Linked DNA regions of Homo sapiens: regions 1, 2, 3, 5 and 6 are each linked to region 4. The links come from fine-mapping of genetic effects on gene expression. A gene starts in region 4. Each other region holds a variant in brackets. All regions are shown on one strand. Distances are from middle to middle.

Evidence for each region. PIP is the estimated chance that this variant, and not a neighbour inherited with it, causes the effect. A credible set is the group of variants that fine-mapping cannot tell apart.
Region 1: its variant is the best candidate, but not a certain one, in a credible set for the expression of INTS4 in monocytes (BLUEPRINT, PIP 0.70).
Region 2: its variant is the best candidate, but not a certain one, in a credible set for the expression of INTS4 in monocytes (Quach 2016, PIP 0.81).
Region 3: its variant is the best candidate, but not a certain one, in a credible set for the expression of INTS4 in prefrontal cortex (BrainSeq, PIP 0.71).
Region 5: its variant is the best candidate, but not a certain one, in a credible set for the expression of INTS4 in whole blood (TOPMed, PIP 0.51).
Region 6: its variant is the best candidate, but not a certain one, in a credible set for the expression of INTS4 in whole blood (TOPMed, PIP 0.79).

What each region holds. Positions count from the first base shown.
Region 1 is chr11:77,954,795-77,959,946 of GRCh38, reverse strand. INTS4 (integrator complex subunit 4) reads left to right here. Exons shown (of 23, transcript NM_033547.4): 7 at 1,113-1,201; 8 at 3,885-4,005. Among named protein-coding and RNA genes, the nearest start is that of INTS4, 37 kb to the left of the region's middle. The variant G/AG (reference allele first, on the strand shown) is at 2,284.
Region 2 is chr11:77,945,933-77,951,084 of GRCh38, reverse strand. All of the region lies in intron 8 of INTS4 (integrator complex subunit 4), which reads left to right. Among named protein-coding and RNA genes, the nearest start is that of INTS4, 46 kb to the left of the region's middle. The variant CTTT/T (reference allele first, on the strand shown) is at 2,404.
Region 3 is chr11:77,726,832-77,731,983 of GRCh38, reverse strand. The region is part of intron 4 of RSF1 (remodeling and spacing factor 1); the gene reads left to right. Among named protein-coding and RNA genes, the nearest start is that of RSF1-IT1, 10 kb to the left of the region's middle. The variant A/TTA (reference allele first, on the strand shown) is at 3,118.
Region 4 is chr11:77,991,556-77,996,707 of GRCh38, reverse strand. INTS4 (integrator complex subunit 4) reads left to right here and starts at 2,040. Exons shown (of 23, transcript NM_033547.4): 1 at 2,040-2,118. The coding sequence starts at 2,065. RefSeq lists a silencer at 1,656-1,725 and an enhancer at 1,926-2,125.
Region 5 is chr11:77,916,422-77,921,573 of GRCh38, reverse strand. It overlaps INTS4 (integrator complex subunit 4), which reads left to right. Exons shown (of 23, transcript NM_033547.4): 14 at 101-234; 15 at 2,596-2,753. Among named protein-coding and RNA genes, the nearest start is that of INTS4, 76 kb to the left of the region's middle. The variant C/A (reference allele first, on the strand shown) is at 3,068.
Region 6 is chr11:77,921,896-77,927,047 of GRCh38, reverse strand. INTS4 (integrator complex subunit 4) reads left to right here. Exons shown (of 23, transcript NM_033547.4): 12 at 2,156-2,298; 13 at 4,577-4,692. Among named protein-coding and RNA genes, the nearest start is that of INTS4, 70 kb to the left of the region's middle. The variant T/G (reference allele first, on the strand shown) is at 2,435.

The DNA.
Region 1 (5,152 bases), 37 kb after region 4:
AGGATCATATAAAAAAAAAGTCACATGCATGTAGTAGTAGTGGTAAAGAAAGGTATAATGAAGTTGTGGAAAAGCTGATTGATGGCCAACCAAAAGGCCTTATGAGGCTGTATTTCTCTTGGAGGATAATTGACTGAATCTGGTAAAAGGAATCTAAATCCACGTTCAGAGATTAGGTTTTGTTAGCCTGCCAAGAGTGGTTTTATCTCTCATGGGAAGAAGATAATTAGCCAAGCCCCATCACAGATGTGTAAACCAAGTTTATTCCTCTATTGAATGAAGTAGAATGGGTCCAGAATGCTTGTGGTGGTGTGACCATCGCCTTCTTTTTCTATAAGAAAACTATGTGGGAAGCCAAATAATTCAAAGGAAACTTGGATCGTAAGGACTCAGAGGAAGGGAAGTTAGTTGGCTGATTCAGATGTTTGGTGGCGTAAGACTCTGTTAGTAATCTAGGCAAGCAGTAATGACAGCATCAAGGGAGTGAGGATGGACTGATAGTGTAGAATTTAAGATATAAGGTAGAATTTGCTTCCTTAATGAGTTCAGGTTTGCGTGTGTTGAGTATAAAAGTTTGATGGGACATCCATGAAGAGAATTCCAGCCATAAGTAGTTATAAAGGCCTGGAGATCAGGAGAAATCAGAGCTAAGGGTAGGTATTCAAAGCCATCAGTATTTAGGGAGTATGGGGCTACCCAGAAAGAGTGAGTGGATTGAAACAGAGGCCAGTGATTTCAGACCAAGGTAAACAGAAGTGTGTGCTTTGATTTTTACAGGGGGAGGAAAAAGCCATAATTGGTGTTTGAACCTGTGAGAACAGTACTGTTTGCTCCCAGCATGCTTTGCTGGGTTTGATCTGTTCTAGATGTTTTTATGCTGTCAGTCTGTGATTCTCCTTTCAGACATGGGGTAGGGTGCATAGTCAGAATACAGCCAGAGCAGCTGACAGAGGTCAAGATTCATTTTTAAGCAAAGATTCCAGAAGTTAAAACCACACACAAGTGTTTTACTGGGCATCCTTATCCAACCACCCTATCTTCACTTTGAAAATAGTTTAAACATTGCCTGAGAGGACACAGAACTAATAGACTTTTGGAATTCTTCTTTGCAGGCCTGTAAATTACTCTCTGATGACTATGAACAAGTGCGCAGTGCTGCAGTCCAGCTTATCTGGGTCGTCAGTCAGCTCTATCCTGAAAGGTCAGTGTGGGTGTAAGCTGGCTTTTGTTGATTGTGAAGCCGTTTTCCTCTCCTCTCACCATGCAAAAAGCCCACTTCTAGAAAAGAAATGTTGGTTACATTTTTGGAAGGCAATGGGGAATAAGGGAAAAGCACAGGCCCTGAAAATCAGATTGCCTGGTCCTCATTTTTCATCTCTGATAGGAACTTTCTGTACACTTTGGAAAGATACTTCACTTCTTTTATCCTAACCTTCTCATCCATAAGTGAAGAAATTGGAATATCTTTCTTAAATGGTTTTCAGTACTTTACAAAAAAATCTTTAAAATTGTTTGGGACCCATTTTAGTTTGGCTTGTGCCAAATGCCAGATAAAGATACCAGATGAGTTTGAGAATAATGATCTCTTATGTAGTTTTCCTGGTTAAAAATATTTTCACAGCAATTAAATTAACCACAGTGATTCTTTGAGGAGGTAGGCAATATTATTTATTATATTTTGTAAGATAGAATATTATATTTATAAATGTTTATTTATCTTTTATTTATAAATATTTATAGAATATTTTATTTTTCCTTGTATAGGAAAAAGGGGTGTTTTTTCCTGTTCATTAAACTGCCAGAATTTGAAAACCAGAATGAATTAATAAACCTGTAGGAGTAGGCTCCATTTGTAGTGTTTTAGGACTTAGACACATACAAAGAAAAGGGCTAACTGGAAATTGTGTCTTCTTTTAGGACTGGATTGATAAGTAAGTTTTATATTGATTTATTCTGAGATTTACTGTATTTATAGAAGTTCAGTCTGGACACGGTGGTGCCTGTAATCCCAGCACTTTCGGAGGCCGAGGTGGGCGGATCACCTCAGGTCAGGAGTTCAAGACCAGCTTGGTCAACATGGTGAAACCTCGTCTCTACTAAAAATACAAAAATTAGCCGGACATGGTGGCACACGCCTGTAATCCCAGCTACTAGGGAGGCTGAGGCAGGAGAATCGCTTGAACCTGGGAAGTGGAGATTGTGGTGAGCTGAGATCACACCACTGCACTCCAGCCTGGGTCACAGAGCAAGACACTTTCTCTCAAAAAAAAAAAAAAAAAAAAA[G/AG]AAGTTCAGTTACAGAAGATAATAAACTTAAGGATATGAAATATTCGGTGGAAGCTAGTTTTTGATAATTTCATAAATCTTTGAACCTTTGGTGGGTTACGTACTTTTTTTTTTAAGGCAGGGTCTTGCTCTGTGGCCCAGGCTGCAGTGCAGTGATGTGATCTCGGCTTACTACAACCTCCAACTCCTGGGTTGAAGCAATTCTCATGCCTGAGCCTCCCAAGTAGCTGGAATTACAGTCGCGCACCACCACACCCAGCTCATTTTTTGTACTTTTAGTAGAGATGAGGTTTTGCCATGTTGGGTAGGCTGGTCTTGAACCCCTGGCTTCAGGTAATCTGCCCGCCTCAGTATCTCAGTGTGCTGGGATTACACGCCTGGCTGAACCTTTGGTGGGTTACACACTTTTATTCAATACATTGAAAATTTGCACCTGGTTGCAGTGACTCAGCCCTGTAATCCTAGCACTTTGGGAGGCTGAGGCGGGTGGATTGCTTGATCTCAGGAGTTTGAGATCAGCCTGGGCAACATGGTGAACCATCTCTACTAAAAATATAAAAAATTAGCTGGGTGTGGTGGCATGCTTTTGTAGTCCCGGCTACTCAGGAGGGTGAACTGGGAGGATCACCTGAGCCCAGGAAGTTGACACTGTGGTGAGCAGTGCTCACGCCACTGCACTCCAGCCTGGGCGACAGAAGTGAGACCCTGTCTCAAAAAAAAGCATAATTTGCAATGCAACTGAAAGAGTTGGTTTGTACTCCCAGAGTGATTTGTTTATTCCAAACTGTATTTAATCATTCTAGGATTTGAACTATTCAATTATCATTTTTGTGTGTGTCAGTCTTCATTGACTGTTCTCAGTTTATTGAGCCTGCAGCCTTACTTACTTATGTATTTATTTGTTTATTATTATTATTATTATTATTATTATTATTATTATTATTATTATTATTTTTTGAGATGGAGTCTCGCTCTGTTGCCCAGGCTGGAGTGTAGTGGCACTATCTTGGATCACTGCAACCTCCACATTCCAGGTTCAAGCGATTCTCCTGCCTCAGCCTCCTGAGTAGCTGGAATTGCAGACATGTGTCACCATGCCTGGCTAATTTTTATATTTTTAGTAGAGAGGAGGTTTCGCCATGTTGGCCAGGCTGGTCTCGAACTCTTGACCTCAAGTTATCCACCTGCCTCAGCCTCCCAAAGTGCTGGCATTACAGGCGTGAGCCATTGCGCCCAGACTGTATTTATTTTTCAAGACAGGGTCTTGCTGTGTCATCCAGGCTGGAGTGCCGTGGTGTGATCTCAGCTCACTGCAACCTTCACCTCCAGAGCTAAAGTAATCTTCCCACTTCAGCCTCCCAAGTAGCTGGGACTATCAGCGCATGCCACCACGCCTAGCTAATTTTTGTATTTTTTTTGTAGAGATGAGGTTTTGCCATATTGCTCAGGTTGGTCTTGAACTCTTGGGCTCAAGCAATCTACCTGCCTGGGCCTCCCAAAGTGTTGGGATTATAGATGTGAGCCACTGTGCCTGGCCTGAGCCTGCAGACTTAGGTTCATGTTTTGTTCTAAGTGATTTCATTTCTTTTCTTTTAATTTAGCATTGTCCCAATTCCTTCTTCTAATGAAGAAATACGCTTAGTTGATGATGCGTTTGGCAAAATTTGTCACATGGTCAGTGATGGCTCTTGGGTGGTTCGTGTTCAGGCAGCAAAACTGTTGGTAAGTTATACTTTTTATGTATGTATGTATGCATGTATATATTTATTTTCTTTTCTGTAGAAATGAGGACTGTGTGGCCCAGGTTGGTCTCAAACTCTTGGCCTCAAGCAGTCCTCCTGCCTCAGCCTCCCAAAAGACTGGGATTATAGGCTGGGTGCGGTGACTCACACCTGTAATTCCAGCACTTTGGGAGGCCAAGGCAGGCGGATCACGAGGTCAGGAGATTGAGACCATCCTGGCCAACATGGTGAAATCCCGTCTCTACTAAAAATACAAAAATTAGCTGGGCATGGTGGCGCACGCCTGTAATCCCAGCTACTCGGGAGGCTGAGGCAGGAGAATCGCTTGAACCTGGGAGGCAGAAGTTGCAGTGAGCCAAGATCACGCTGCTGCACTCCAGCCTGGCGACAAGGGGGAGACTCTCATCTCAAAAAAAAAAAAAAAAGGCTGGGATTATAGATGTGAGCCACTACACCCAGCCAATAATCCTTTTTTTAAATGAGCACATTTCTCATTAAGTTTTTACAGACATTTTGAGAAACTACAGATGGGGCAGTGTGACCTGAATTTAAAACCCCAGAATTTATTTTCCTTTTTCTTTTCTTGAGACAGGGTCTTCCTCTGTTGCTCAGGCAGGAGTGCAATAGTGCAGTCACGGCTCACTGCAGCCTTGACCTGCCGGGCTCAAGCAATCCTTCCACCTCAGCCTCCTGAGTAGCTGGGACTACAGGCATGTGCCACCCTGCCTAGCTAATTTGTATTTTTTGTAGACATGGGGTCTTGCTTTGTGCCCAGGCTGGTCTTGAATTCCTAGGCTCAAGTGATCCTTCTGCCTTGGCCTCCCAAATTGTTGGGATTACAGGTTTAAGCCACTACTCCCAGCCCCAGAATTTCTTAATATAGAAAGAAATAGTTCACTCTCCTGTAGAGAAATAGCCTTTTAGAACTAGAAAGAATCTTAAAACATAATTCTATTAACCCTACTAGGAATTAAGATAGCCGGAGCCTAGAGAAAAAGGAAAACAATAAAAAAAAAGTTTTTCCCATTTATTAAGCACTTGTTATGTCCTAGTTCAGGAGGCTCAAACCCCCAGGCTGTGGACCAGTCCTGGTCCATGGCTTGTTAGGAACCAGGCCACACAACAGG
Region 2 (5,152 bases), 46 kb after region 4:
ATGGAATCCTATGCAGCCATAAAAAATGATGAGTTCATGTCCTTTGTAGGGACATGGATGAAGCTGGAAACCATCATTCTCAGCAAACTATCACAAGGACAAAAAATCCAAACACCGCCTGTTCTCACTCATAGGTGGGAATTGAACAATGAGAACACATGGACACAGGAAGGGGAACATCACACACCAGGGCCTGTTGTGGGGTGGGGGGAGGGGGGAGGGATAGCATTAGGAGATATACCTAATGTTAAATGACCAGTTGATGGGTACAGCACACCAACATGGCATATGTGTACATATGTAACTAACCTGCACGTTGTGCACATGTACCCTAAAACTTAAAGTATAATAAAACAAACAAACAAAAATTGACACATTGTATATATGGGGCACAAGTTGATGTTTTGATACACATCTATGTTGAATATTAATCCAATCAGGATAGTTAGTATAGTTATCACCTCATACATTTATCATTTCTTTGTCATGAACTTTCAACAGCCTCTCTTGCAGCTATAATATTGTATATTTTGTAATATACAATATTTTACTGTTAATCATAGTCACCTTTATGTGCAGTTGAACACCAGAATTTATTTCTCTTCATTGTGACTTTGTATCTGTTGTCCAGTCTCTTCCCATTCTCTCCTACTCCCTCCCCTCCCCAGTGTCTGCTAACCACTGTTATACTCTCTGCCTCTATGATATCAATTTTTTTTTTAATACTTTAAGTTCTGGGATACATGTGCAGAACATGCAGGTTTGTGACATAGGTATACATGTGCCATGGTAGTTTGCTGCACCCGTCAACCTATCATCTACATTAGGTATTTCTCCTAATGCTGTCCCTCCCCCAGCCCCCACCCTCTGACAGTCCCTGGTGTGTGATGTTTCCCTCCTTGTGTCCATGTGTTCACATTGTTCAACTCTCACTTATGAGTGAGAACATGCGGTATTTGGTTTTCTGTTCTTGTGTTAGTTTGCTGAGAATGATGGTTTCCAGCTTCATCCATGTCCCTGCACAGAACATGAACTCATCCTTTTTTGTGGCTGCATGGTATTCCATGGTGTATATGCGCCACATTTTCTTTGTCCAGTCTATCATTGATGGGCCTTTGGGTTGGTTCTAAGTCTTTACTGTTGTGAACAGTGCTGCAATAAACATACGTGTGCATGTGTTTTTATAGTAGAATGATTTATAATCCTTTGGGTATATACCCAGTAATGGGATTGCTGGGTCAAATGGTATTTCTGGTTCTAGATCCTTGAGGAATCGCCATGCTGTCTTCCACAATGGCTGAACTAATTTACACTCCCACCAACAGTGTGAAAGTGTTCCTGTTTCTCCACATCCTCTCCAGCACCTGTTGTTTTCTGACTTTTTAATGATTGCCATTCTAACTGGTGTGAGATGGTATCTCATTGTGGTTTTGATTTGCATTTCTCTAATGACCAGTGATGATGAGCTTTCTTTCATATGTTTGTTGGTCACATAAATGTCTTCTTTTGAGAAGTGTCTGTTCATATCCTTCACCCACTTTTTGATGGTTTTTTTTTTTTTTTTTGTAAATTTGTTTAAGTTCTTTGTAGATTCTGGATATTAGCTCTTTGGCAGATGGATAGATTGCAAAAATTTTCTCCCATTCTGTAGGTTGCTTGTTCACTCTGATGATAGTTTCTTTTGCTGTGCAGAAGCTCTTTAGTTTAATTAGATCCCATTTCTCAATTTTGGCTTCGTTGCCATTGCTTTTGGTGTTTTAGTCATGAAGTCTTTGCCCATGCCTATGTCCTGAATGGTATTGCCTAGGTTTTCTTCTAGGGTTTTTATGGTTTTAGGTCTTATGTTTAAGTCTTAGATCATGCAATATTTGCCTTTCCATGTCTGGCTTATTTCACTTTACATGATGTCCTCCAGGTTTATCGATGTGGCAAATGACAAGATTTTATTCTTTTTTTATTTTCTTCTTTAAGTCAGGGTCTTGCTCTGTTGCCTAGGCTGGAGTGCGGTTCCGCGATTGCACAGTCATAGCTCACAGCAACCTCAAACTCCTGGGGACTCCAGCCTGGATAACAGCGAAACTGTCGCTAAAAAAAACTAAAAACCAGATTGTTCTTCTTTTTTGATGTAGTCATTTATTGCTGTACACTTATCTCTTAGAACTGCTTTTGTTGCATACCGTAGGTTTTGGTATATGTTTTAATTCTTGCTTGTGAAGTGTGTTTCTTCTAGGCAATGTATACTTAGATTTTGTGTTTTAATCTATTCAACCAATGTATACCTTTTTTTTTTTTTCTTTCTTTGAGACAGGGTGTCTGTCTCTCTGTTGCCCAGGCTGTAGTGTACCTTTTAATTGAAGAACTTAATCCATTTATATTCAAGATTTTTTCCTTCTTCTTCTTCTT[CTTT/T]TTTTTTTTTGTTTTTTTTTTTTTGTTTCTTTGAGACAGGGTCTCACTCCGTCACCTAGGCTGGAATGCACTGGTGTGATCTCAACTCACTGCAACCTTCACCTCCTGGGTTCAAGTGGTTCTCGTGCCCCAACCTCCCCAGTACCGGGATTACAGGCATGTGCCACCATGCCCAACTAATTTTTTTGCATTTTTATTAGAGACGGGTTTTGACATGTTGGCCATGCTGGTCTCAAACTCCTGGCCTCAAGTGATTCGCCTGCCTTGGCCTCCCAAGGTGCTGGGATTACAGGCATAAGCCACCGCGCCCAGCTATATTCAAGATTGTTATTGATAGATAAGATCTTATTCCTGCCATTTTGTTAATTACCAAAAAGTAATTTTGGAGATCCTTTGTTCTTGTCTTCCTTTCTTGTTGTTTACCTCTGATTTAGTGGTTTTCTGTGGGGCCACGCTTTATTTTCATTCTCTTTCTTGTTTGTGTATCTGCTGTAACTTTTTTCTACATAGTTACTACAGAGTCTTCAGTTAGGCTGGTGTGGTGGCTCTTGCCTATTATCCCAGCACTTTGGGAGGCTGAGGCAGGCAGATCACTTGAGCTCATGAGTTTGAGACCAGCCTGGGCAACATAGTGAGACCTCGTTTCTACTAAATAAAGAAAAAAGAAATCAGCTGGGCATGGTGGCACACATCTGTAGTCTCAGCTACCCAGGAGGCTGAGGTGGGAGGATCACTTGAGCCTGGAAGATTGAGGCTGCAGTGAGCCGTGATCAGGCCACTATGCTCTAGCATGGGCATCAGAGTAAGACTGTCTCAAGGGGGAAAAAAAAAGTCTTGCAGTTACAATAGAATGTTTTAAGCTGATAGCAACTCAACTTTGGTTACATAAAAGGACCCTAGATTTTTTCCCTCCCCACTTCAATTTATATTTTTGTTGCCTTAATTTTCTTCTTCATCTGTTATGTGTTCCTTAGCTACTATTTGTAGCTGTTGTAGTTTTTGACCATTTTGAATTTAACCTTCATACTAGCAGATTGAAAATTTTATATGACATATTGTATCACTGGGGTTTGATCTGTTTGATTTATGAGTTTGCCTTTACTGGTGAGTTTTATACTTTTGTGTGTTTTTATGATAGTGATTATTGTCCTTTTGTTTCTAGCTGTAGCATTCAATACCTTGAATATATTAATTCTATCCCATTCTCTCTTGGTCTGCGAGGTTTCTGCTGAGAAATCTGTTGATAGTAATGGAGATTCTCTTGACAATTTTGTCTTGCAGCTTTGAAAGTCTTACTCTTTGACTTTCGATAGTTTGATTATAATGTACCTTGGAGAGGATCTTTTTGGGTTGAATGTAATTGTGAACCTTTGAACTTCCTGAATCTGGATGTCCGTATTTCTCCCACTACTTGGCAAGTTTTCAGCTATCATTTCATCAAATGGGTTTTCTGTGCCTTTCTCTTTCTCTTCTCCATCAGGCAATCTTCAATGCAAGTATTTGTTTGCCTGTTGATGTCCCATATGTTCCAAGGCTTTCTTTTTTATTCTTACTTGTTTTTTTTTTTTCCTCTTAATGGGTTATTTCGAAAGACCTGTCTTCAAGGTCAGAAATTCTTTCTTCTGCTTGATCCTAGTCTATTGTTGAAGCTCTCAATTGTATACTATTTTTATTTTTTTCATTAAATTCTTCAGTTCCAAGATTTCTGTTTGGTTCTTTTTTATGATATTGATTTCTGTTGAATTTCTCATTCGGATCATGAATGTTTTCCTGATTTCATTTAATTGTTTGTCTGTATTCTCTTGTATCTTACTGAGTTTCCTTTAGATCACTATTTTGAATTCCTTTTCAGGCATTTTGTAAGTGTCCTTTTCTTTAATGTCTGTCATTGGAGACTTTTTTCCTTTTTTTTTTTTTTGAGACAGGGTCTTGCTCTGTCACCCAGGCCGAAGTGCAGTGGCATGATCTCAGCTCACTGCAACCTTCTCCTCCTGGGTTTAAGTGATCCTCCCACCTCAGCCTGCTGAGTAGCTAGGACTACAGGCGCATGCCACCACACCCGACTAATTTTTTTATATTTTGTAGAGACGGGTTTTGCCATGTTGCCCAGAATGGTCTTGAACTCCTGAGTTCATGCTTTCTGGCTGTCTTGGCCTCCCGAAGTGCTGGGATTACAGATGTGAGCCACTGCCCCCAGCCAGGAGACTTACTGTATTCCTTTGAGGGTGTCATGTTTCCTTGATTTTCATTTATCGTGTGTAAGATACTGGATGTTGATATCTGTGCATTTAGTAGAGTAGTTGCTCTTTTCAATTTTATTGAGTAGCTAGTATATAGTAACAGTCTTTTTCTGTAGATGGTTTTAGGGTATTAGTTGGGTATGGTGTGTTGCCTTTGGTTCTGGGTGGACTCAGTGGGTGGTGTAATAATCCTTGTCAGCTTCAGCTGTAATCTTCAGCTATAATCCTAGTCATTGATGTTTGCAATTGCCTCAGTTGCCTAGGCTGTGGGAGTTTGTGATGGCAATGCTGTAGATGAGGGTACTGAGCTGATTTCTGGCCAAGACATGTACAGGCTAAAATGGCTGCCAGGCTGTCTATCTGGTTTTCCAGGGAGGCAGTAGTTGCTGCTGTGGTGGCTGTCGTGCTGGGCTCAGGCCTTTGCCGCGGTGGCCTGCTGGGCAGCTCTGTGGCTATGTAGGGAAATGGGGCTACTGCCTGGTTGGCTGTTGCTTTGGGCTAGGCTC
Region 3 (5,152 bases), 260 kb after region 4:
GGTCCTCTTCTCACAGCTCCACTAGGTGGTGCCCCAGTAGGGACTCTGTGTGGCTCTGATCCCACATTTCCCTTCCACACTGCCCTAGCAGAGGTTCTCCATGAGGGCCCCCAACCCCTGCAGGAAACTTCTGCCTGGGCATCCAGGTGTTTCCATACATCTTCTGAAATCTAGGCAGAGGTTCCCAAACTCCAGTTCTTCTGTGCATTCACAGGTTCAGCACCACATGGAAGCTGCCAAAGCTTGGGACTTGCACCCTCTGAAGCCACAGCCTGAGCTCTGCATTGGCAGCTTTCAGCCATGACTGGAGTGGCTGAGATGCAGGGCACCAAGTCCCTAGGCTGCACACAGCACATGGACCCTGGGCCTGATCCATGAAACCATGTTTTCCTCCTAGGCCTCCAGGCCTGTGATAGGAGGGGCTGCCGTGAAGACCTCTGACATGCCTGGAGACATTTTCCCCATTGTCTCAGGGATAACATTTGGCTTCTTGTTTCTTATGCAAATTTCTGAAGCCAGCTTGAATTTCTCCTCAGAAAATGGGATTTTCTTTTCTGTCACATTGCCAGGCTGCAAATTTTCTAAACTTTTATACTCTGCTTCCCTTATAAAACTGAATGACTTTAACAGCACTCAGGTCACCTCTTGAATGCTTTGCTGCTTAGAAATTTCTTCCTCCACATACCCTAAATCATCTCCTTCATGTTCAAAGTTCCACAAATCTCTAGGGCAGGGGAAAAGGCCACCAGTCTCTGCTAAAACGTAACAAAACTCACCCTTACTCCTGTTGGGGAACAAGTTCCTCATCTCATTCTGAGACTACCTCAGCCTGGGCCTTATTGTTCATATTGCTGTCAGCATTTTTGTCAAAACCATTCAACAAGTCTCTAGGAAGTTCCAAACTTTCCCACATTTTCATATCTTCTTCTGAGCCCTCCAAACTCTTCCAACCTCTGCCTTTTACCCATTTTTTAAGCCACTTCCACATTTTCAGGTACCTTTTCAGCAACGCCCCACTCCTGATACCAATTTACTATATTAGTCCGTTTTCATGCTGCTGATAAAGACAAGACTTGGCAATTTACAAAAGAAAGAGGTTAATTGGACTCACAGTTCCACATGGCTGGGGAGGCATCAAAATCATGGCAGAAGGCAAGGAGGAGCAAGTCATGTCTTACATCAATGGCGGCAGGAAAAGAAAGCTTGTGCAGGAAACTCCTGTTTTCAAAACCATCAGATCTCGTGAGACTCATTCACTATCACGAGAACAGAACAGGAAAGACACATCCCATAATTCAATCACCTCCCACTGGGTTCCTCCCACAACACGTGGGAATTGTGGGAGTTACAATTCAAGATGAGATTTGGGTGGAGACACAGCCAAACTGTATCATCTATGGTTATCATAATAAAAACTGTGATTCTTCTTGCTTTGGTGGGGAAAAGGAATTGAGTAGGAAAGGACAGGAGGGAATTTTTGTGGGAATAGTGATATTCCTTATGTTGATTATGGTGTAGATTACACAATGTATGCATTTGTCAGAACTGATGAACTGAGTGCTTAAAATATGTTTATTTTACAGTATGTGAATTATACCTCGTTAAAAATATTTTCAAAATTGATAATGGTTTGACAGTCATTTTCAGAAAGTTGAATTTGAAATAGTATATACAGTTTTCATGTACCCATAATTACAAACTGTATGAATGCATTTCTAAACCATATATATATATCTAAAACCTGCTAATATAGCACAGTGATTAAGAAGGGCTCTAAAGTCAGACTTCAAAATTCAGTCTTGCTAAATTGTACTAACTTACCTTAGGCAAATTACCATACCTCTCTATGTGTCCTCAGTTTCCTCAGTCATAAAATGGGAATAATTTAATACCTACTTAATTGGGTTATATTGGAATTATATGAACTAATTAATATAAAACTCTTGGAATAATTAATGCTTGGAACATAGTGCTCATTCACTAATGTTAACATCTTAGATTAATAGTACTGCTATTGATATTACTAATTAATGCCTCTTCAGTTTTCTTGGCCTCCACAATTTTTTTTTTTTTTTTTTTTTTTTTTTTGCCTACTGAATAATTTGGCATTTATACCAAAAAGTTGGAATATTGTTTCTCAACTCTGGAATCATATATTTAAAATATTTACAAAAGGCTTGTTATATTTATACTGTTTTATGCTCTGTAGATGTGAAGACCTGGTCCCATTTGTTAAGGAGTTTTTGTTATGGGAGAAAGGTACAGGGAGATATTACATAATACAGAGTCACAAAGTCTGTGATGGAGATTATCAAGGGTGCTGTGGAAGAACCAGATACTTGGCTCATACTTGGCAGAAGATAATGCCTATACTTGACTTTTTTTTTTTTGTGGGGTTGGGGTTCAGGGGCGTCTGTTTATTTTTGTTATTTTTTTTTTCTTCATTGCTTCTGAAATGTTTAGCACCTACCACTAATTCAAACTCTGAACAACTCCTAGGCTGGGAGAAATCATATTTCACAATAATAATGGTTAGGATGACGTGTTCCATTTCATTGAAGTCTAGATTAACTTAAGGTACATATAGGAAAATATAACAGTTTAGAATCTGGTTAAGTCAAAGTCAGTAACCAGTCTGCCCAAAACTAAACTTTGAACCTTTCTACCCTAATCTGAACGTCCCATCTCTGTTAATAGCAGCTACATCCTTTCCTTGGCTCAACCCTATGGAATGTGTCAATAGAATTTCTTTAGGAATGAAAAAGATAAGCAGAGATGTAAATATAATAACCAAGTGTTAGTGTTTGGTTATTAATGATGAGAGAAATTTAGCAAATAGAGACCTTATACCAGATTCCATCAGGTGCTTCTTCAGGAACAGAGTGGGACTACAGAGAGTGCTTTTATACCAAGTGTAAACCCTAAGGCCCAAAACCTTGGAGCACATCCGTAACTGCTTTTTCTCTCACTCCACATCTACCCTAACAGCAAATCCAATCAGCTCTTCATGCATGATTGTATCTAGAATTTGATCACTTCTCCTTCATAGCTGCATTCTTGTCCAAGCCACCATCTCTTTTTTGTAAAATATATATAATTGAGCAGTTTTTTTTTTTT[A/TTA]CAAGTTATGCATCTGGTACCACTATCTAACACCGGGATATTTTTCTCACCCTAAAAAGAAAACCCTGTACCCATTAGCAGTTATTCTTCATTCTCCCTTTTCCTAGCCCTTAACAACCACCAATCTTTCTGTGTCTATAATTTGTCTATTCTCAACATTTTGTATACATAGAATTATATAATAAGTGACTTTCTGTGTGTGGCCTCTTTCTTTCCCTTTCCTTTCCTTCCCTTCCCTTCTCCCGTCTCCCTTCTCCCTTCCCTTCCCTTCCCTTTTTCCTTCCCTTCCCTTTCCTCTTCCTTTTCCCCTTCCCTTTCCTCTTCCCTTTCCCCTTTCCTTTCCCCTTTCCTTTCCTTTCCTTTCCTGTTTCTCCATGTTGGTCAGGCTGGTCTCCATCTCCCGACCTCAGGTGATCTGCCTGCCTCGCCCTCCAAAGTGCTGGGATTACAGGTGTGAGCCACCACGCCCAGCCATTTGTGGCCACTTTCAAGTAGAGTAATCTTTACAAAGTTTATCCGTGTAATATAAATCAGAACTTTATTCCTTTTTATGGCTGAGTAGTATTTCCATATGTAGATATACTAGATTTTGTTTATTCATTCTATACTTGTCTTTGAGAGAGTAATTGGAATTAGCCATGGGGAACACATTCCAGGCTAAGAGAGCAGAAGTGCAGTCAGTCACCCGATATCCTAAGAAAGCCTGGTATTTTGGAGGGATATATCTGATTTAACATACCTGAAAGAAGAAATGGTTTGGAGAACAGAGAACAAGTGAGGGAGGGGTAGCAAAACAACTGGATTGTTGTTAGGGTCCATAGTCTAAAATATTCTGTACATAGTGTTAAGAAATTTGGATGTGATTTGAGGGAATTCATAAAAATTTCCTCTGACTAACTCAGATTTAGGATTTTTTAAATTGTTCAAAAATAGGAAAAACCCAAAGATGGGTAGTTTTGTTTTCATATAATAACGACTACCTTAGGCTTGTGTTTAAACACATTAAACAGATTAAAAGCCTTTTAGGGAGTTGTTCTTTAATAAATTTTAATGCTAAATTCCCTTTTTGCTTAAAGTAGTGGAAGTAGGCTGGGTGCAGTGGCTCACGCTTGTAATCCCAACAGTTTGGGAGGCCAAGGCAGGCAGATCACTTGAGGTCAGGAGTTCGAGACTAGCCTGACCAACATGGTGAAACCTCATCTCTACTAAAATTACAAAAGAAATTAGCCAGGCGTGGTGATGGGTGCCTGTAATCCCAGCTACTCGGGAGTCTGAGGCAGGAAAATCGCTTGAACCCAGGAGGAGGAGGTTGCAGTGAGCCAAGATCCTGCCATTGCACTCCAGCCTGGGTGACAAGAGTGAAACTCCATCTCAAAAAAAAAAAAAAAAAAAAGTAGTGGAAGTAATTGAAATAGATTTTCCTAGCAATATTAGCTCTCTTACGTTTTGAAGCTTTTTAAAATTGTTATGGTGCATAACTTCAGTATACTCTTCAGTTCCCACCATGACTTTCAGAAATAAATAGATCGAGCCATTCGTTGCATATGGAATTCTCTTTTTCCTTTTTTTAACATATGGAATTCTCAATGGAATATGAGTAGTAATAAAGCATAGATCCTTAAGTTAGAAGCAGGTTGTAATGAAATTAGGGGACTGGATCTTTGCCAAAAATAAATAAAGTCTCTGAGTCTTAATTTTCCTTCCTGTAAAATGGAGGCAGGACCAGACAAGACTTTGAGAAAACATCTAGTCTTACCTTTTGATATTAGATAATTAAAATTCTAGACTGGTTATTATATATGCTCATATGATATGTATGAACATGTATGTTTTATTCTCATGTATAATTGATTGTCATTTTAATTTCTGATTTTTATCAGTGGCAATTTTACTGCTTTATTTAGAAGACCAATTTAGTAATACTCAAGAGAATCTGTTCTTTTATTTTATAAATAAGAAAGCTGAGGCCTAATGAGGATATACAACTTGTCCAGGGGCTCTTTGGAATGCAGAGTTCCTACTCTAAAGCAGTAGA
Region 4 (5,152 bases):
TGCATTAGAAATAGTTTCCTTTTTTTTTCTTTTTTTTTTCTTGAGACAGAGTCTCGCTCTGTTGCTCAGGCTGGAGTACAGAGGCCCGATCTCGGCGCACTGCAGCCGCTGCCACCTGGGTTCAAACGATTCTCCTGCTTCAGCCTCCCGTGTAGCTAGGATTACAGTCACCCACCCCGACGCCCGGCTAGTTTTTGTATTTTTAGGAGAGACGGGGTTTCACCATGTTGGCCAGGCTGGTCTCGAACTCCCGACCTCAGGTGATCCGCCTGCCTCGGCCTCCCAAAGTGTTGGGATTATAGGGGTGAGCCACCGCGCCCAGCCTTTTTTTTTTTTTTTTTTTTTTTTGGAGACAGGGTCTCACTCCGTTGCCCAGGCTGGAGTGCAGTGGCTGGATCTCGGCTCACTGCAACCTCCACATCCCAGGCCCAAGCGATTTTCCCGCCTCAGCCTCCAGAGTAGCTGGGACTTCAGGCGTGGGCCACCATCATGCCCAGCTAAATTTTGTATTTTTAAAGTAGATTTCGCCATGTTGCCCAGGCTGGTCTCAAAACTTCTGAACTAGGTGATCTGCCCGCCTCGGCCTCTCAAAGTGCTGGGATTATAGGCGTGAGCCACCACTCCCAGTTTCCTCTAATTTTAGGAAAGCCTTCCCTGAGGCACTCTGAAGAAATTAGGTCTGTTTGAACCACATTCATTCCCGTTACCCAGCACATTTCAGTTGCACTGTCACCATCAGTTTGGGTGTCTGTCTTCTCAGATTGTAGGACCTTGAGGATAAATACTATCTTTTGTTTATTTTTGGGTCCTCTGTATCCACCTCAGCCTCCTGCTTTTTTTTTTTTAAACTATCCCACATTAATTCTTTTTTTTTTTTTTTGATAACGGAGTCTCGCTCAGTCGCCCAGGCTGGAGTGCAGTGGCGCGATCTCGGCTCACTGCAACCTCCGCTTCCCATGTTCAAGTGATTCTTCTGCCTCAACCTCCCAAGAAACTGGGATTACAGGCGTGTGCCACCATGCCCCGACTAATTTTTGTATTTTTAGTAGAGACGGGGTTTCCCCATGTTGGCCAGGCTGGTCTCGAACTCCTGACCTCAAGTGATCCATCCGCCTCGGCCTGCCAAAGTATTGGGATTACAGGCATGAGCCACCGCGCCTGGCCCACATTCTTTTGAAAGACCAAAATAATGAACAGCTAGTTTCATGTAGGTTGTAAAACTTGACCTTGGATTTACTGACACTAACATGTGCACTACACCTTACAGTCCGTAAAATGTTCCTGCATTATTTCACTCCATTGTCACATCTTTGTCAGGTTAGTTATTATAAATGCATTTGTAGTTGAGCCATTTGCTCAAGAACCAGAGCTGTAGTCTGTAGCTTTGTTGCTTTATCCTTGGTCTCAGAAGTCTTCTACTGTACTATAGCTATCAGAGCAGGGATTGATGCCTTAAAGGATGGCAGCTTTTGCAAAACTGGAATAAGGAAGTATGGAAAGGCACCCCAAAACAAGAGAGGTGGCGCACAGCTTGAACAAAGGCAGTGCTCAGGAAACCTACAAACAGCATCGTGTACAGCAAAGGATGATGGGAAAGTCAGCCGAGCCTCTGAGTTTTTTCACGAGTCGTAAACCCCTTACAGAGCTCCGGGTTTTGCCTCTAGCTCTGGAGCACCCCGCCTCTGCCCTTTAACCTGTACTTCCTCCCTCCCTCCCTTCGCGCCGCGCCGCGCTAGTCTCTTAGCCACTCCGAGGCCACCAACCAGCCTCCCAAAGCTCCCATTGGGTTGCCCACCCTTTCAGTCTCAGCTCCTCCCGCCAGAGGCCCCGCCTCCCACAAGCGAAGCTCTTATTTCCGTTCTTCCGGCGTAGGCCGCCAAATCAGTCCGTACAGTGGCGAGGCAGTCGAGCAACAGGAAGCGGTCGCTCTTTCCCCAAATCCCACTGCCTTGTGGGATCTCGGCAAGTCATCCACCCACCCCCCGCGCCTACGCAAGTTTTCCGGATCCGTCCACCCCCGCCTCCCTCCTAGTGTACGGAAGCTGAGAGGGCCCGCGGGTAGGCATGGCGGCGCACCTTAAGAAGCGGGTTTATGAGGAATTCACGAAAGTGGTTCAGGTAAGCTCTGGCGGGAAAGATCCAGAACCGATCCGGACCAGGGTAGATTATCCAAATCCCAGGCACTTTGCCGGAACAGAAGAGGCTCCATACGCCCGTGTTAAGTGCTGACTTGTTGATAATCTCTGATATTGCAAGTTAGTGGGCGTGTTAGTTTGCAGCCGCTGTTGTCATTAATATGTGAAGTCTGACAGGATTTTAAAAAAATTATTAGGAGAAACAGTGTTTTTTAATTTACGAAACTGTCTTATCCGTTATTTCATTTTATTCTCTCACACAACTTTGCTCCATCGCGTTACATTAGCATCCTCGTTTTCCAGATGTGGACATTGAGCCTTCCGGAGGGGTACGAGGATACAGCCAGTTAGCAGCAGAGCCCCTTCTAGCCTCCCCGCACCCCCGTTCCAAAAAAAAACCTCCCAGGGACCAGTTGGAATATACACAAGGTTCTAAGGGGCTGAAAGAAGGGTCTATAGAATTCCTTCAGGCGCAGTCTAAGCAGGCGGGGGTCACAGACTTCATAGGGGAAGAGCTCTCTATTGGTAGAACAGCTCACCTAGGAAGGAGGGCAGTACCTTCCTCACCATGAAGTTGTGACAGGTGGGCAGAGTCCCTGTCGGGAGTCAGTGATGCTCCATGTGTCTCCACGTAGATGTTGCTAGGGTTGATCCTAAATCATCCTGATGTCCTATTTCTCAGATATTAATGTGTATACAAATTACCTGGGGACGTTGTTCAAATGTCGATTCTATTTGATAAGTCAAGCAGAGGAGGTGAGGCAAGATTCTGCATTCCTGACATGCCCCCAAATTTACACCAGTGCATTGGTTGCATTCTTAGATCCTTAGACTTGTAGAGTGGCAAGGCTTAGAGCATCCAGCAGGATACTGATCCTTAAACATTACATGGATTCATTCATCCAGCATTAAAATATGTTAATACAAATACAAAATATGTCAATACATAATATAAAATTTACAATTTTAACAATTTTAAGTATAAAGTTCAGTGGCATTAAGAACATTAGCACTGTTGCACAATGTGATTTCCTCTCTTCCCAACATTCTGTTGTTCCCATTTCCCAAGACTGCTCAGCCCTCTTCCACCCATCCTCACATGACCAGATATGCCATGTGTTCTTGTGTTTGCATATCTCAAAACTCTTGCACTGGTTGTCTCTTCTCACAGAATACATGCCATTCTTCCCTTTCTTTTTGTTCTCCACCCAGTGGACTTAACATTTGTGCTTCAAGACCCAAATGAAACCTCAGCGAGAGCTTAGTCTCTTCTTCACCTGTTTCTGTAGCATTCTGTGGTACTAATCTATTTGTACTTTTTGTTCAGTGCTGCTGTCATTACCGGTGTACCTATCTTCCCACCAGTCGGAGGTCCTTGATGGCAGAGCTAATGCCTGGCTCATCTCCGTGTCCTGGAGATGGACAATAGGGCCTGGCTCACTAAAGTGTTATTGGTGGTTGAATGACAGTTGATATTGCTTGTCCTCTCCCTTATATAATACTTAGGGAAAAAATTCCTAGCTTTTGACCTAACTACAGCTTCGATAAGACTGAAAACTGAGTTTGAGAGGACTAGGATAGAAATGGCTAAGAATTTTAAGGGAAGAGCTAATTTCTTCACTTAATTTTTCATCAGTTGTTAACATAAAGTGATTAAATGAGATCTTAGTGCTTCTGTTCTTTTTTCTCCGCTGAAAAGATGAGGAGGGAGAACTGATATGTGCCTAGCACTTACATATACGTATAATAAAGTTATGTTTAATAACAGATTTATCGACTAGCTCTGTGATAATAAAGTATTGGTATGCCCTCCTATAGAAGAAGGCCTTCCCCAGCTAGTAAGTTGTAATTGAATACAAATTCCTCTGACTCCAAAGTCCTTATTCTTTTTATCATGTCATACTGTGTTCTTGTCTAGAATAATTCTACTCTCTTTTCTATAGAAATGTGAATTTGTAAGGAGGTGATTGCTCAGTACATAAAAACGCACCATTAGGTGGTAAGGAAATTTATTTTATTTTATTATTATTTTTTAACAGAGACAGGATTTCACCATGTTGCCCAGGCTGGTCTCGAACTCCTGGGCTCAAGGGATCCTCCTGCCTCAGCCTCCCAAAGTGCTAGGATTTCAGGTGTAAGCCACTACGCCCATCGGATATTTGTTTCCTTTTCTTCTGTTTTGAGATGGAGTTTCGCTCTTTTCGCCCAAACTGGTGTGCAGTTGCGCAATCCTAGCTCACTGCAACTTCTGCCTCCTGGGTTCACGCAATCCTCAGCCTCCTGCATAGCTGGGACTGCAGGCATACACCACCACCCCCAGCTAATTTTTGTGTTTTTAGTAGAGATGGGGTTTTGCCATGTTGGCCAGGCTGGTCTTGAACTCCTGGCCTCAAGTGATCCGCCTGCCTAAGCCTCTCAAAGTGCTGGGATTACAGGCATGAGCCACCATGCCATGTCTGATATTTGTTTTCTAATAAAGAATGGACTTTGGGAGACTGAAGCAGAGGGATCACTTGAGGCCAGAAGTTCGAAACCAGCCTGGGTAACATGGCAAAACCTGTCTCTACTAGAAATACAAAAATTAGCCATGTGTGGTGGCACACACCTGTAATTCCAGCTAGTTGGGAGTCAGGGAGGTGAATCGCTTGAACGTAGTAGGTGGAGGTGGCACACACCTATAATCCCAGCATGTTGGGTGTCAGTCAGAGAATCATTTGAACCTAGGAGGTGGAGATTGCAGCAAGCCAAGATTGCACCATTGCACTCCTGCCTGGGCGACAGTGTCTTGCTCTGTCTCAAAAAAATGGAGTAGATCCTTTGTGTGACCTCTAAACCCAAAGGCTACCACAATCCTCAGAGATAGGTAGAGCAAAATGTTAGTGTAAGGCTGGGCACCGTGGCTCATGCTTGTAATCCCAGCACTTTGGGAGGCTGAGGTGCCAGGATTGCTTGAGCCCAGGAGTTAAGACCAGCCTGGGCAACATAGAGAGACTCCATCTCTAAGAAAAAAAAAAAGT
Region 5 (5,152 bases), 75 kb after region 4:
CATAGTCTCTTGATGGAGATTTTGGAGGTGGAAAGTGAGAGTGCCAGAATCTGGCCAACCTTTTATACTTCCAAGTTTACTTAACCCAGTCATCTATCAGATATTGCAGTTTTGGTACTTATTTTCAATGCTGCTAAAACCTGTCCAACAATGCCAGCATTGTTCTCAGATCACACCTTCAGGCACTATGCCTACCTCCGAGACAGTCTTTCTCATCTTGTTCCTGCCTTGAGGGTATGTTGAAAACATCTGTTGTCCTTGTTTTTATTTTGCATGGGGTAGGGTTATTTTTGTTCATGTTTTCCTTTGAGATGGGGGTCTTGTTATGTTGCCCAGGGCGGTCTCAAACTCCTGGGCTTAAGCCATCCTCCTGGCTCAGCCTCCCAAGTCACTGGGATTACAGGTGAGCACCACTGTGTGCAGCTTGTTTTTGGCTTTTTATTTTTTGTGCTTTGTGGTTATTAAATAGTAGAAAGCAGTCCATATATTCTCTGAAAACTTGTTTGTTCATTCTCTTTCTCTCTTGGGCTCTTTGCCATTGTTTTATACTTTTGCTTTTGTATCCTTTACCTTTTAAGATGATTCATTTTTTTTGGTGTCCCTGGGTTATTGATATTAGGCAAGAAGAAAGGAACCTGGAACAATAGATTATATTTTAGATCAAGAATTTAAATTGTTATATATATATATTTATTTATTTATTTTTATTATTATTACTTTTTGAGACGGAGTCTTGCTCTGTCGCCCAGGCTGAAGTGCAGTGGCACGATCTCGGCTCACTGCAAGCTCCACCTCCCAGGTTCACTCCATTCTCCTGCCTCAGCCTCCCGAGTAGCTGGGACTACAGGCGCCTGCCACCACGCCCGGCTAATTTTTTGTATTTTTAGTAGAGACAGGGTTTCACCGTGTTAGCCAGGATGGTCTTGATCTCCTGACCTCGTGATCTGCCTGCCTCGGCCTCCCAAAGTGCTGGGATTACAGGCATGAGCCACCACACCCAGCCTAAATTGTTATATTTTAACTATTACATATAGCTATGATTCTCCACAAGTGCTTATTTTTTAAAAATAAAACCTTTACTATTTTTAAAACCTAGAGTTATATAGAAGAAAATTTAAAAATAGATCATAATAATAATAGCAAACACTTCGTGAATGCTGTGGCTCAGGTACTCTTCCAATCTCTCTATTTGCATTAACTCATCCCTGCTTGGGTGACTCCAAATCACTTTATTTGGAGTAATATGTGTTTATTTAGAGGAACATTTATATATATGTGTGTATATATATATATGTGTATATATATGTGTATATATGTATATATGTATATATATGTATATATGTATGTATATGTGTATATATATGTGTGTATATATATGTATATATATGTGTATATGTATATGTATATATATGTGTATATATATATATGGTTAGAAAATTTAAACTTTATAGAAAATACAAAATGAGGCCAGGTGCGGTGGCTCATACCTGTAATCTAAGCATTTTGGGAGGCCAAGGCGGGTGGATCATCTGAGGTCAGGAGTTCATGACCAGCCTGGCCAACATGGTGAAACCTCATCTCTACTAAAAATACAAAAATTAACTGGGCATGGTGGTGGGCACCTGTAGTCCTAGCTACTCGGGAAGCTGTGGCAGGAGAATTGCTTGAACCCAGGAGGCAGAGGTTGCAATGAGCCAAGATTGCGCCACTGCACTCCCGCCTGGGCGACAGAGCGAGACTCCATCTCAAAAAAAACAAAAGACAAGTAGATACAAAATGAAAAGTGAAATACTCTTTGCTCTCTCCTCCCCATCCATCTTAAAAGGTAACCACTTTTAACAGTAAGAATAAGTATATCTGTAGGGCTAGGCCAAAAATAAAAAAAAATTATTCTCATGAAAAAATTATATGCTATATAAATTTATTTGGGAATAAATCATTATTCTTCCTTCAAGTGAAAGATAAGATAGTGTTTTAAAGATAAATGTGGCCGGGTGCAGTGGCTCACGCCTGTAATCCCAGCACTCTGGGTGGCCGAGGCAGGCAGATCACCTGTGGTCAGGAGTTCGAGACCAGCCTGACCAACATGGAGAAACCCTGTCTCTACTAAAAATACAAAATTAGCTGGGTGTGGGGGCGGCCACCTCTAATCCCAGCTACTCAGGAGGCTGAGGCAAGAGAATCGCTTGAACCTGGGAGGCGGAGGTTGCAGTGAGCCGAGATGGTACCATTGCACTCTGGGCAACAAGAGTGAAACTCTGTCTAAAAAAAAAAATGTAACAACAGTTCAATTTTTAGTCTCCTTCCTAGGGTTGGCCCATTTATTTCAGTTAGCAATAGAAAATATTATATCTTTCTGTTTTTCTCCTGGCAGCTGTGGCTGTATTGGGTAGACCATGTTTGCATTTTGTCTCTTTCTCTTTAACTCCCAATGTTGCTGAGGAAGGGGAGAAATGTTATTTATAGAATATCCTAGCCTTTTTTCCCCTTTGTTTTGTTTAGCTCACGTTTTTAATGTGCTTTTATGTGTTTGTGTGTGTGTTACCAAAAGCTGAGCCACCAAACTTAATGACTCTGTAATCCCACTCTGCTTAGTTACCAGGTAGAAAACTGGTGTCATCAGCTGTTTCTCCCAGCATCATACCTCAAGAGGATCCTTCCCAGCAGTTCCTGCAGCAGAGCCTTGAAAGAGTGTATAGTCTTCAGCACTTGGACCCTCAGGGAGCCCAGGAGCTGCTGGAATTCACCATCAGGTAGGGTAATCATCCCTTCATCTGACAGAGTTAGTGCTGTTACACTCAGCTTGACTGTTCTGAATTCTGGTGTTGGTTACTAGGCTTGATATTCTGACTTTATTGGTCTACATTCACACACGGTTTTATGGTCTGTTTATATTTGGATTAGATTGTGGTTTGAACATATTTTTTAAAAGAGCTCTTTATATTCATGACTCGATTGATGATTAGTACACAACAGAAATAGTTACAAAGAACCTGTTTTTAGTTTTTTAATTTTATATATTAGGATGAGTGACCAAAATGCAAAGTAACAGTGGCTAAAACAGGAG[C/A]AAAGTTTAATTCTTTCTCATAGGCAGGACAGGGCTGAGATGACCATCAGGGATCTAGGCTTGCTCTTTTTTTTTTTTTTTTTTTTTTTTGAGACAGGGTCTCACCCTGTCACCCAGGCTGGAGTGCAGTGGCATAATATCAGCTCACTGCAAGTGATTCTCCCACTTCAGCCTCCCAAGTAGCTGGGACCACAGGCATATGCCACCACACCTGGCTAATTTTGGCTTTTTTTTTTTTGTAGAGTCGAGGTTTCACCATGGTGGCCAGGCTGGTCTCAAACTCCTGAGCTCAAGTGATCCTCCCGCCTCGGCCTCCCAAAGTGCTGGAATTACAGGCGTGAGCCACTGTGCCCGGCCTAGGCTCATTCTTTCTTCTGTCTTCATCTTCTGCATCAAGCAGCCTCTGCTTAACAATTCAGATCTAACTGTGCCCCCTGTATTCCATCCTGTGGGGAAAAGGAAACAGGAAGAGAAAGGTATCATCTCCACCCTGTGGTTTGTTTAAAGACACTTCCCAAAAGTTGTACACTCTAATTTTACTTGCATTCCATTGACTAGAACTTAAGTCACATGGCCATCTCTCACTTCAAGGAGCGAGGACATGCAGTCTTTATTCTGGGTGACTAATGCCTGGTTTACATGCGATGACTCTAATACTCAGGAAGAATGGGAGAAAGATATTGGGGAACAACCAAAAGGCTCTGCCAGACCTTCCTCAAAATGGCCTGAATGATATGAAAAAAATTTAAACTCATTTGCTTTTAGCAAAAGCAGTATTGTTTGCTCTTAAAAGATTAAAAAATTATATCTTTGAGGAGCAAACAGTACTGCTTTTGCTAAAAGCAAATGAGTTTAAATTCTTTATTGTTTGCTCTTAAAAGAGAAAAATATTATATCGGCCAGGTGCAGTGGCTCATGCCTGTAATCCCAGCACTTTGGGAGACTGAGGCGGGAGGATCACTTGAGGCTAGGAGTTCAAGACCAGCCCCGTTGAGTGAAACCCCATCTCTACTAAAAATACAAAAATTAGCCAGGTGTGGTGGCACGCGCCTGTAATCCCAGCTACTTGGGAGATTGAGGCACAAGGATCGCTTGAACTCGGGAGGCAGAGCTTGCAGTGAGCCAGGATTGCGCCACTGCACTCCAGTCTGGGCAACAGAGTGAGACTCCATCTCAAAAAAAAAAAAGAAAGAAGGAAAAATATTATATTATATAATTTGTATCTTAGTTGAGATCTCTTTTGATCTGCCCGGAAGAGTATTTGGTACCAGCCACATTCAATTAATAATTTTTAGTGGATGATTTCATTCCATACACTAAGAAACAAGCTCTGTGCTAGATACAGATCAGCTAGCTAGGATTCTGCCCTTAGAGAGCCCATGTAGACAAGATGGATATAGACAAAGACTTATGATGGTGGATAACAGCGCTTTGTACTTTGTTCATGCTTTCCTGTCCATTATTGCATCTTAACATGTTATAAAGCCAGCCAACTGAACCATCCTCCAAGTTATGTTTTCCCATTATATTAGGTCATTCATTCACTTAGCAGCATTAACTATTTGTTTATTCTAATAAGCCAGTTGCTGAGGGTAGAGAGAAATAAGAAATGACATTTGTTCTTAAGGTACTCACTGTTTATTACAGGACCCAGAAATCATCAATTTGATAAATGATACAGTGAAGAGAAGCATAGATGCTGTGGAAAAACAGATGAAAGTCCCCGACCCATCACGGTAGTGGTGGTGAGGGATGCTTCACAAAGGAGAAGATCCTTTAGCTAGTATGAAATGATAACTGAGCATGTCAGTTTCGTAGTCCATGTGCAGAAGACAGTTCCAACTTCAGCAGACATTAGAAGAGCTGGGAGACCTGAGGGAGAACAGCCTCCCAGAACTGCAGTGGTGTAGTATAGTGATTGAGTGAATGGAGCTTTGAGGGCAGACTCATTTTGTTTAACGTCTGAGCTAATACAGTCATGCACTGAATAACAACGTTGTGGTGGTCCCATGATTATATTTTTACTGTACCTTTTTGATGTTTAGATATACAGATATTTACCATTGTTTACCATATTTACCAATA
Region 6 (5,152 bases), 70 kb after region 4:
CCCACAGCCTATATTAGGTAACATATCCAGGAAGCCTTCCCTAACTGTTACTCCCAGCACTGGGTGGGCTAAATGCCACCACTCTATTCCCATAGCACCCTGTGTATACTGCTGTAGCATTTTTCAGTAATTCTCTATTTCATAAGACTGTGAGCTCCTCAAGGTGTCTTGACTTTTCTTTTCTTTTCCTTTCCTTTCCTTTTTCCTTTCCTTTCCTTTCCTTTTTTTTTTTTTTTGAGGCTGAGTCTCGCTCTGTTCCCCAGGGTGGAGTGCGGTGGTACGATCTTGGCTTACTGCAACCTTCACCTCCTGGGTTCAAGCAATTCTCCTGCCTCAGTCTCCCGAGCAGCTGGGATTACAGGCACGCACCACAATACTAATTTTTGTATATATTTTTTTTTTTAGTAGAGATCGTGTTTCACCATATTGGCCAGGCTGGTCTCGAACTCCTGACCTCAAGTGATCCACCCACCTTGGCCTCCCAAAGTGCTGGGATTATGGTGTGAGCCACCGTGCCCGGCTGACTCTTCATTTTTTTATTACCAATGTCTTGCAGCAGTGTCTGGCACAATTAGGTGCTCGGTAAGTGTTTGCTGAGTAGCTGAGCTATGTTCCAAGCTATGTTTTGATGTACAGAATTGTTCACAGGTATGCTTATTTGTGAGTACTTATGTATATAACTCACAAAGAATCCTTGCCTTTTAATTCTTTTCAGGAGTTCAGACCAATATAAACTTACAGTAGACTATTCTTCCACCCTGCTGTGTACTTCTCCCTTATATTTTCTGTGTCACTGGGCTTCATTGCTTTGAGCCTTACCTTGCTGACCCTTCCAGCTGGAATTTGCCTTTTTTTTTTCCTGCTATGTCAAGATCCTACCCTGCCTAGAAAAATTCACTTCTTTATTCAACAAGCACTGTCTATGTATTAGAAATATAGGGATATCAAAACAGGCAGGATCCCTGCTGTCATAAAACTTATATTCTAAAGAGAGGTGGAGTAAACAAACAAAATGATTTCAGATGGTGATAAATGTTTTGCAGAAGATAAACAGTATGATTGAGGAATGGGGAATTTCTCTGTAATTTGAGTGGTTAGTAAAGACTTTCTGAGGAGATGATGTTCAAGTTGAGTCTTGAATGATAAACAGAAGCTAGCTATGTGAAGACTGGGAGAATAACTTCAGGTAGAGGCAACAGCTAGTGGAAAGGCTCTAAAACACAAGTGAGCTTTGTTGTGTTTGCAGAATAGAGAGAAAGCCAGTAGGAGTGAACCACAGTGAGAAAGTAGAAATGTGGCATGAGATGAAGTCTGAGAGGGGATTAGGGACAGGTGGAGAGCCTTGTAGGCCATTTTAAGATGTCTGGATTTTATTCTAACATTATGGAAAACTGTTGCAGAATTTTATGGATAGGAGTGACATTTCGATTTGCCTCTCTTTTAATATTTCTCATTCTTGAAATCTTGAAATTCACTTCAGATAGATTGACTTTTTCCCTCACTCCTCCATTTAACACATACAGGTATACCTCTCTTTATTGGGCTTTGCAGATATTGTGTTTTTTTAATAAATTGAGAGATTGCGGCAACCATGCATTGAGCAAGTCTATCGGTGCCATTTTTCCAATAGCATGTGCTCACTTTATGTCTGTGTCACATTTTGGTAATTCTTGCAATATTTCAAACTTTTTCATTATTACATCTGTTACAGTGATCTGTGATCAGTGATCTTTGATGTTACTGTTGTAATTGTTTTGGGATGCCACAAACTGTGCCTGTATAAGATGGCAAACTTAATAAGTATGTGTGTTCTGAGTGTTCTGCTAACTGGCCATTCCCAGCCTCTCTCTTAGCCTTTCTTCTTAGCCTGTCCTTTTTCCTAGTTGCAAAAAGGCTCTTGTACCTTCAGCATCATGATTGAGTTCCAGATAGGATGGAAAAGGAAGGTTAAAGAACAAAGGGGATAAAGCTACTGCCTCTGGTCCTTTATCAATAAAATGAAAGATATTTCAGGAATTTCAGCTAAAAAACTTCCACATACTTTGTTACATGGCCACCCTAGATGGGAAGGTGGCTGGGTAGAAGGGGATGGTAGATAGAGGCTGAGTCTGCTAACCAACAGTAACTACTGTTATTATTACTTTTTTTTTAAAAGGATTCATCCAGAGATATTCGAGAGGCTCTTCATGAACTCTTATGCTGTACTAATGTTTCAACCAAAGAAGGGATTCATCTTGCATTGGTGGAGCTGCTGAAAAATTTAACCAAGTACCCTACTGATAGGGACTCCATATGGAAGTAATGACTTTTTTGCCCATTTACTCACTGAGTCCCATAATGTGGTAAATGTATAATGCTGACATTTGTTCCGTCCTTATAGATTGAGGATAGTACGGCCCTGAATTTTGCCTTTACTTTAGAAACCTGATTCAAC[T/G]TAACCGAACTCTCAGGAATCTGATTCCTAAGCTGAGTATCACATTTTAGATTACTTACTAATTTGTGCATCTATCCACCTAGCAAATATTATGTGCCTGCTGTGTGCTGACTATGCACCAACCCTTGTGGTAGCTGTTACAAGTATAGAAATAAATTAATTAGATTTCCTCTTTCTCCTATATAGTGTTTTGTTTTGTTACTTTTTTTTTTTGAGACGGAGTCTCGCTCTGTCACTCTGACTAGAATGCAGTGGCGTGATCTCAGCTCACTGCAACTTCTGCCTCCTGGGTTCAAGCGATTCTCCTGCCTCAGCCTCTCGAGTAACTGGGATTATAGGTTGCATGCCACCATACCCCAACTAATTTTTGTTTTTTTTTTTAGTAGAGATGGGGTTTTACCATGTTGGTTAGGCTGGTCTTGAACTCCTGACCTCAGGTGATCCCCCTGCCCCGGCCTCCCAAAGTGCTGGGATTACAGGCATGAGCCACTGTGCCTGGCCTTATTATTTTTTATTCATTAAGTTCTGGTTTAGAAGGTGCACTAAATTGGCTGGGTGCAGTGGCTCACGCCTATAATCCCAGCACTTTGGGAGGCTGGGGCGGGTGGATCACCTGAGGTCAGGAGTTCAAGACCACCCTGGCCAACATGGTGAAACCTCATCTCTACTAAAAATGCAAAAATCTGCCGGGCCTAGTGGCACACGCCTGTAATCCCAGATACTTGGGAGGCGAAGGCAGGAGAATTGCTTGAACCCTGGAAGCAGAGGTTGCAGTGAGCCGAGATTGTGCCACTGCATGCCAGCCTGGGCAGCAGAGCAAGACTCAGTCTCAAAAAAAAAAAAAAAACCATAAACAATAATAAAAATATATAATTACCTTGCTTTTATAGTTCCTTATAGTTTATAAAGGGCCCTCATGTAGTTATAATAGCTAACATTGAGTTCTTACTATGTGACAGACACTTTGCTAAGTACTTTATGTTAGTTATTTAATGCGTATAGCAACTCTATGAAGTAATGACTTTTAATCTCATTTTGTAGATGAAAAAATTTACTTGCATAAGGCTACTTAGTTTCAGACAGATCTGTGATTTCAGGACTTCACCCAGGATATCAATCAGAATGTTTTTGCCCACAAATAAAAAAGACAATCTGATTAAAAATATCTTAGCCAATAAGTCTGTTTTTTCATAACAAGTGGTCAGAAGGTTGGTTTCAGGATTCGTCATTCAACAGGTTACCAGGGCTCTCTTTGGTTTCTCTGCAGTTCTCTTGGCTTTTTTTTTTTTTTTTTTTTTGAGACAGAGTCTCTCTTTATCGCCAGGGTGGAGTGCATTGGCATAATATTGGCTCACTGAACCTCCGCCTTCCAGGTTCAAGTGATTCTCCTGCCTCAGCCTCCCGAGTAGCTGGGACTACAGGCCCGTGCCACCATGCCCAGCTAATTTTTGTATTTTTAGCAGAGATGGGGTTTCACCATGTTGGCCAGGATGGTCTTGATCTCTTGACCTCCTGATCCAGCCACTTCGGCCTCGCAAAGTGTTGGGATTATAGGCGTGAGCCACCACACCCGGCCGGCTTTCTTCTCATAGTTGTAAGATGGCTGCCTCATAAGATAATATCTCAAGACAGAAAGGAAGGGTCATTCCCTTTCATGCATTGCTCTTTTGATTTGCAAAAACATCCCTGAGAAGCTCCCCAGCCAGCATACTCTCGTGCTCCATTGTCTAGAACTGGCTTACTTGCCCACCAGCAAACCAGTCACTGGAAAATGGGAATGGGATTGCCATGATGGGTTTAGACCAATAGTGGTTCAGCTCTTGGGCTGGACCTGCCTTTTCCGAGCACTTTGCTGCCTGCCTGATACCTGAGTAAAATCAGGGCTCTCTCAGGAAGAAAGATGGGGGAAATGGCTCTTGGTTAAATAACCAGTTCTTTTATCTTTATAATAACCAGTTTTTTTAGATGAATTAACCGAGTTCCAGAATAACTGGGTGACTTATCTGAAGTCATAGAGTTAGCAAAAGTATATGGTTGAGAATTTCCAATTCCAGTTCAGGTTTTCTGATTCCAGTTCCTAGTACTTTTCAAAGGACTAACTTTACTAATTTGTTGATGTGCATTCTTATTTGTTTGTTTCAGGTGCTTGAAGTTTCTGGGAAGTCGGCATCCAACCCTGGTGCTTCCCTTGGTGCCAGAGCTTCTGAGCACCCACCCATTTTTTGACACAGCTGAACCAGACATGGATGATCCAGCTTGTATCCTCTGTGCTTAGGATGGGCCCTGATGTGTTGGCAGGCAGCTTTGGCATCTCCTTCTGCAGTATAGCTAGGGTAGTCTGAATTTTCTTTTCTTTGCTTTTCTTTCTTTTTTTTTTTTTTTTTTGAAGACAGAGTCTCATTCTGTCACCCAGGCTGGAGTGCAGTGGCCTGATCTCGGCTCACTGAAACCTCTGCCTCCCGGGTTCAAACAATTCTCCTGCCTCAGTCTCCTGAGTAGCTGGGATTATAGGCGCCCGCTACCACACCCAGCTAATTTTTGTATTTTTAGTAGAGATGAGGTATCACCATGTTGGCTAGGCTGGTCTCAAATTCCTAACCTGTTGCTTGGGCTGGAGTGCAGTGGCACCACCCCAGCTCACTGCAACCTCCGCCTCCCGGATTCAAATGATTCTCCTGGCTCAGCCTCCCAAGTAGCTGGGATTACAGGTGCCTGCCA